Linked DNA regions of Homo sapiens. The protein of the gene in region 1 purifies or fractionates together with the protein of each later gene. This does not show direct contact. Each region holds a gene or a part of one and is shown in the gene's direction. Other genes may lie near its edges. The genes, in order: PLEKHA3 and SEC24D.

Region 1 (3,821 bases):
CACCTAAACATGGCAGGCATATAACTGTCAGCTTTTTCCCAATTATCTGAAGAGAAGATGTTTCCTTAGGGCTCTTGTATCCTGTTTCCAAGGTCTCACATTTCTTGAGCTATAGGTATTTATATTCATTGCTTTTTTAAATGATTACATTTTGTTACATTGCTCAAAGAATATGAAAATGATCTAACTGTATATTTATGTATATTCTTTTCAGAAATAAGTGAAACCAGTGAATCGCTGAAAACCAAAATGTCTGAACTTCGCCTCTACTGTGACCTCTTAATGCAGCAAGTTCATACAATACAGGAATTTGTTCACCATGATGAGAATCATTCATCTCCTAGTGCAGAGGTAGAGCGAAGAGGATCTCTTCACGTGTGGTTATGCTTTGGAGTACTCTGGGGGGATCCTCAGTCATTCCATAAGATGACAGGCATTTTCACATTGAGTTATTTTCAGCTTTTCTGGGTTCTGCCTACTGTATACTATCTGGAAATCTGTAGCATCTTCTCGATTGTGTCTGTGTGGCCAGAGAAGAACATGAAGTAGCATATTTCTCCAGGGGTCAAGGCTTGTCTTTGCAGCCAGTCTGATAATTTGGAGGTTGGAGTGGGGAAGAAGCATTCCAGGCTTTGTTCTCCAGGCTAGCGGCATAAATTCACTGGACAGCTGCTATTCTCTTTTTTTGGTAATAAGGTCCCTGCTTCAACTATGAGAGTTGATAACTTATCTTTATGAAATAACTTAAAACAAATCCTTCTCAGAACAGTGACTTAGGAATCAAAACTCAGATTAGTAGGATCGGGCTATAATAGGCTCATTCTTCATGGTAAAATAGGACCAGTGAGCTATACCACTCTCTGGGTGAAAGGCCAGCATGTTGCCTGTCCCTTTTTGCCTAACTTGGTAGAAGTGGGGCAAGAAATCTTCCTATTTCTTCTGTGGCCTTCTCCTGTTGGGGAGGAATCTTGTGTAAGAAGCCCAAGGACAAACTGACCACAAGCTCCCTGGAGGTAGTTGACCTCACACTTGCTACAGCAGCTCAGTGACAGTATTAGGGACCCAGGCTTGTTCCATCCTTCCACTCTGCCATTCTTGGTGTGTTGAGTTTTTCTCCTAATGCCCCAGGTGTCAAGATGACTGTCAAGCTCACAAAGAGGCAGGAGGCAGTGGGGTTGCCAGGGTAGAGAGAGTCCTTCTCAACTTGCTGTGCTTGGTTTTGAATCGGGAAACAAAAATCCCAGAAATTCCCTAGCCAACTTCTCATCTTTTTTTTTTTTTTTTTTTTCCGGCTCAAAGGAAACTAGGAAAAAATGAGCATTTAGTAAAGAGTGTTGGAATAGCCATGACTAGGTTAGATCAGTCTCTATTCATCCCCCAGGATCAGGGCACTTTGCGATCCTGAACAAAATTGGGCTTTTTACTCTATCAAGGAAGAAGTGGGAGAATGGATAGAGGGTAGGCATGAATTGTACTGCCACTAATTAACTCTAAGGGTATTCCATGTCTGTGTCCACTTTTGGGAAAGTGAAAATTACTGTTTAGGTTAGATTTCTCTAAGATAAACTTTTGTACACAGTTTTTCAATATGATAATTAAATGCAAAGCTTATTTTTTCTTAGAATCTAGTTTCATACATTGTTTAGGAGACAGGCATTTCTTATACATAGATGTTTTAATGTTTTCTTTTTTCTTTTTTTGCCCCAGCTTAATTTTCTAAGGTACTGTATTTTAAATAAATTTGAACATAACATAGTAATGTGTCTGTTGGAGATGTCTTATTATTTAATGATAAGGTTGTATATGATTCCATGTAGTTGTATGCAAATCTGTTCAAGTCTTTGTGTAATTTTTCAGAACATGAATGAAGCCTCTTCTCTGCTTAGTGCCACGTGTAACACATTCATCACAACGCTTGAGGAATGTGTGAAGATAGCCAATGCCAAGTTTAAACCTGAGATGTTTCAACTGCACCATCCGGATCCCTTAGTTTCTCCTGTGTCACCTTCTCCTGTTCAAATGGTTTGAACTTCTTGTTTTGGTTTTTTCCCTCAGTAGTAATGTTGCATGTGGTTTTCGTTTCATTTTGGTATTTATTTTTAAGGGTGGAAGCAGGCAGTTGGGGGGCGGGGAACAGCTAACAAGTTGAATTTTTTTGTTTGTACTGTTTCATATTCGAGCTTCTTAGCTGATGAGCTGAGCACTTGTGCTAGTGTCCTCATTCCCTTCTCCTTGGAGGGGCTGTGCATGGCCTGCCCACAGGCTGCTTCATCCATTTTCCCCAGTGTCTAGGAAAATATTACAAAGTGCTGTGACAAAGAAAAAGTTGGGGAGCTCTATTCTGCTTGGTAAGAATTACACAATGGAATGAGATTTTAGTCACAATGGGGTACAATTACGTATATCTTTAAAGGAGTTAGAAGGAATTTGAAACATATTCCGGTGGGAACGGTATTCTCTACTAAGCATTTGGATCTGAACCCTCAGAGTAGCTGATCTTCAGTTTCTTCATGTGTAAAAATACAGTGTATATCAGAGAGTCACTGCAAACGATCTGACCTGCTTACTGTTAGGTGCTCAGTGTTAGTTTCTTACTTCCTTATTGCTCAGAACAAGTCCTCTTTTTGCCAGGGGTGGCAGATTCGTTGTCCTTTCTGAGCTAATAAATTTGCTCTAGCATGCTGTTAGAAATTTGTAGGTGAGATAAGCTTTAATGAGACTTCAAGTTTATTGCATCAAAGTGTTTTTAGGAGTCCATTTATAGGAGTAAGAATGCCACCTTGTTGCTGTTTCAGCAATTACCTGAAGATCTATTTGTTAGGAGAATAGGGTCTAACTTCTTCCTAGGTTCTCTTACCTATCCCAGCAAATTTAGTTATGAGATTTAGTAAAGATTATTGCCTAGATTTATTTAGAGAATTGTTTTCTAATCAGTATTTGATGGGCTAATAGTTTCCTCTGAGGCAAGCGTACCATGAAAATGAGTTTTATGGCCAGATTAATTTGGGAATTGCTAGGTTAACTTAAATGATATGAATTGGGTTTGATGGGACTTGTCACAGCCTTTTTACTTATTTATTTATTTATTTTTTTAGAGACAGGGTCTCACTCTGTTACCCAGGCTGGAGTGCAGTGACACCATCATAACTCACTGCAGCCTCAAACTCCCAAGTTCCAGCCTCCTGAGTAGCTGGGACTACAGGTGCACACCACGGTGCCTGGCTATGTTTTTTAATTTATTATTTGTAGAGATGGGGGGGGTCTCATTTTGTTGCCCAAGCTGGTCTCAAACTCCTGGCTTCAAGCTAAGTTTTTAAATTTATTTTTTGTAGAGATGGAGTCTCATTTTGTTGCCCAGGCTGGTCTCAAACTCCTAGCTTCAAGCAGTCCTCCTGCTTCAGCCTCCCAAAGTGTTGGGATTACAGGCATAAGCCACCATGCCCAGCCGTCACACCCTCTTTTATGCTGAAGTGTATTATGAATCTCTGAGAGGTGGAAGTGTAGTGTACAGTGTTGCTGAAATTTATTTGACAATTGAGCCCGTTATATATATACACAAATAAAATAAATATATATATAAATACTATATATGTATATATTTTCTTTTTTTGAAATGGAGTCTTGCTCTGTCGCCCAGGCTGGAGTGCAGTGGCGCAATCTCAGCTCACTGCAAGCTCCGCCTCCTGGGTTCATGCCATTCTCCTGCCTCAGCCTCCTGAGCAGATGGGACCACAGGCGCCTGCCACCATGCCCAGCTAATTTTTTGTATTTTTAGTAGAGACGGGGTTTCACCATGTTAGCCAGGATGGTCTCGATCTCCT
Region 2 (3,821 bases), on another chromosome or scaffold:
TTCTTGCTGTTAATTAGTGGTGTAAGGCTATTGTAAACATTGAATAAAAAAAGAATTAAATTTATAAATGAATTAAATTCACATATCCTTATCTAGGATTGGCCCTAGATAAATCTGTACATCATGTGAGGATAATTCTTTGTACAATTCTTTGTACAAATGGACCATGTATAAATCAATGAGTAACTCTCAGGGCTCACTGGAACTAGCTTAGATATCTGGGATCCAGGCTGTGCTAGGTAGAATGTATATAGTGCAGAATCAGCAAGGGGTGAGGACTCCCTTTAGTGAGGCTTGATGTTAGCAGCCACACACAGTGTGCTGCAGAAGATGCTCTGAGATTGTGAATTTCCTGTGGAAAGTCAGTCTTATGATTTATTCTTCCCGAGATTTTAAAGATGTCCAGATGAAGCATCCCTCTTCTTGTTCAGGACCATCCTCTCCAGAATGTTTGTAATCTTGCCTTACTGGATCCTGTAGAAACCATTAACCCCTTCAGTTTCTAACTGGTGGTTCATTTCTCCTCAGCATTTATTTATAATGATAATTATAAATTATTCCTTTTTATGATGTGTCGAAATCTGGCCCTAAAAGCTTTTCCTGTATTGTCTTATTTAATCCTCATACAATGCTATGCAGTAAGTTATTTTTGCAGCTAGGAAAACTGAATGTCTGGTGTCATGTGACTTGTCTAAGGTCACAGACAGCAAGTAGTAGCACCAGGATTCATACCCAGATCTCTCAAGAAGGCAAAAAACAAATTGCATACACACCTAAGTATAACACTCTATATTATTCACCCTTCCCTCTTCACAGGCATCTTCTTGAGAAAGTACTCACTATGCTTGGTAATCTCCACCTTTACCTCTCCTTCCCTCCATGGCTCAGCATAGTTTACACTCCATAGTTTGCCACCCCATCCACACTTTCACTTCCCTCACCAGGACTATCAGTGTCCTATTTCTCAATGCAGTAGACATTGTGCTGTCTGTCCTCTTTTGTATTTGACTCTGTTTACCACTCTCATTTTTACAAAACTCTTTTCTCCTTTGGTTTCAATGACACTATCCTTTTGTTGTTGTCTTTTGAGGTGGAGTCTCCCTCTGTCGACCAGGTTGGGGTGCAGTTTTGCGATCTCAGCTCACTGCAACCTCCGCCTCCTGGGTTCTAGTGATTCTCCTGCCTCAGCCTCCTGGGTTCTAGTGATTCTCCTGCCTCAGCCTCCTGAGTAGCTGGGATTACAGGCGCCCGCCACCATGCCTGGGTAATTTTTGTATTTTTAGTAGAGACGGGGTTTCACAATGTTGGCCAGGTTGGTCTCGAACTCCTGACCTCACGTGATCCACCCGCCTCCACCTCCCAAGGTGCTGGAATTATAGGTGTGAGCCATTGTGCCCATTTTTTTGGGTTGCTTTCTGGACATTTCTTTTGAAGGAATTCTTCTACATGACTCTTAAGTGTTGCTGTTTCTCCCTCCATGTTCCATCTTCACTACTGTTATCCCACTCTGTAGATTTTTCCCTAAGCTGGATCATTCACAGAAAGTGCTTGTCTCTCAGATCTATTTCTCCAGCCCAGATGCCTCCCCTAAGCTCTAGACCAGGGGTATCCAGTCTTTTGGCTTTCCTGGGCCACACTGGGAGAAGAATTGTCATGGGCCACACATAAAATACACTAACAATAGCTGATGAGCTAAAAAAAAAAAAAATCAAAAAAATCTCATAATGGATTAAAAAAGTTTTCAAATTTGTGTTGGGCCATATTCAAAGCTGTCCTGGGCTGCGTGTGGGCCGTGGGTTGGAAAAGCTTGCTCTAGACCCATATTTCCAGTTGCCCACCTTTGTTGAGGCACGTCACAGTCACCATGCCCAAAACAATTCCATATTCATCATGGAAGCCTATGTTTTCTGGCATTTCAAATCTCACTCATTAGCATCATTTATTTCGTGATCCATACCAGAAACTTTATTAAAAAAACAAAAAAACAAAACTTGGTGGGGTGTGGTGGCTCACACCTGTAATCCTAACACTTTGGGAGACCAAGACAAGTGGATCACTTGAGGCCCGGAGTTTGAGACCAGCCTGGCCAACATGGTGAATCCCGGTCTCTACTAAAAAAATAGAAGATAAAAATTAGCTGGGCATGGTGGCACATGCTTGTAATCTCAGCTATTTGGGAGGCTAAGGCATGAGAATCGCTTGAACCAGGGAGATGGAGGTTGCAGTGAGCCAAGATCACGCCACTGCACTCCAGCCTGGGGAACAGAGTGAGACTCTCTCAAACAAACAAGCAAAAAAACCTCTCCCTCCTTTTTATCTCCTCCAATGTAATCGGTCTCCCAAATCTTTTTGGAGTGATTGTAAACAGCTTTCCTACCTGCTTTCTCCTTTCCATTCTCCTGTCACTCTTTTTGTTCAATCCATCCATCTCTCACATGGATTACTAAAATGATCTTGTAACTATTATCCCTCTCTCCAATACTGTCTTTTTCCAAACCATCAACTCCTGAGCCAGAGGGATTTTTTTATACCATGCAAATCTAATTTGAATTCTTTTGTATTCTAATACTTTTTCAGGCCTCTATACTATTTGCCATACTGTGTTATAATAGATGTTCCTATAGTAGATGTTCCTGGAGCAGAGAAGGCACTCATGGCTGTTTTTAAAAAAAAAAATTTTAATTGGCAAATAAAAAATTATATATACATATATATATAATGTACAACATATTGTTTTGAAATATGTATACACTGTGGAATGGTTAAATTGAGCTAATTATAAATGTTTATTCAATGAAGTGGATGACAAACTGTAGCACTCATTAGCAAAACACTCTGGTATTTACCAATATTTAATTAAATTAAATTAATTAATTTATTTGAGACAGGGTTTTGCTCTGTTGCCTAGCTTCCAAGTAGCTGGTAGAGATGGGATCTCCCTATGTTTCCCAGGCTGGTCTTGAACTCCTCAGCTCAAGTGATCCTCTCGCCTTGGCCTCGCAAAGTGCTGAGATTATAGGCGTTAGCCTCGGCACCTGGCCTTACCAGTGTTTTTAAAAGCTGTCTTTGTTGGATTAAATCCTTCATGCTTTAGTTTAAACTGCTTTCTCCTTACTTAATGGCTATTAAATATCAGGTGAATAACCAGGCTATTATACTCTCTGCAAATATATCTTTCTATGCATATTGTGGTGTTTTGGTTTAATTATTTAAGACTTTCACTAAATTACTCCAGCTCTTATATCTCTGATTATATTCTGCTGAATAACCTTAGATACCTTAATCTTCAGTCTTCCTGTGTCTTCTTGTCTAGCCTTTTAGTGACGCTTTTATTGGTCTCCTGACAGACACAAGCAAACTTATTGTGGTTCTTTGAAGTATCTATTCCACTGTAGATCTGGCCAGTGCTAACTCTTGCTTTGTGTTGCTCACATTATCGTATCTCCATTTATGCTTATTCATTGTGTTTTTGTAAAGCTAGTGCTGTATACTAACACTTTTTTTTTTTTGAGACGGAGTTTCGCTCTTATTACCCAGGCTGGAGTGCAATGGCACGATCTCGGCTCACTGCAACCTCCGCCTCCCAGGTTCAAGCGATTTTCCTGCCTCAGCCTCCTGAGTAGCTGAGATTACAGGCATGCGCCACCACACCCGGCTAATTTTGTATTTTTAGTAGAGACGGGGTTTCTCTGTGTTGGTCAGGCTGGTCTCAAACTCCCGACCTCAGGTAATCCACCCGCCTCGGCCTCTCAAAGTGCTGGGATTATAGGCATGAGCCACCGCGCCTGGCCCCTAACACTTTTTTTTAAAGAGACAAGGTC

What was found.
Region 2: the proteins of PLEKHA3 (region 1) and SEC24D purify together in Homo sapiens (affinity purification with mass spectrometry; one large-scale study listed by BioGRID and IntAct). This does not show direct contact.

Annotation. Positions count from the first base shown.
Region 1 is NC_000002.12:178,493,639-178,497,459, forward strand, and holds part of PLEKHA3 (pleckstrin homology domain-containing family A member 3), read left to right. Parts: intron 1-214; coding exon 215-351; intron 352-1,857; coding exon 1,858-2,022; intron 2,023-3,821. UniProt on the Homo sapiens protein: Plays a role in regulation of vesicular cargo transport from the trans-Golgi network (TGN) to the plasma membrane.
Region 2 is NC_000004.12:118,829,501-118,833,321, reverse strand, and holds part of SEC24D (protein transport protein Sec24D), read left to right. Parts: intron 1-3,821. UniProt on the Homo sapiens protein: Component of the coat protein complex II (COPII) which promotes the formation of transport vesicles from the endoplasmic reticulum (ER).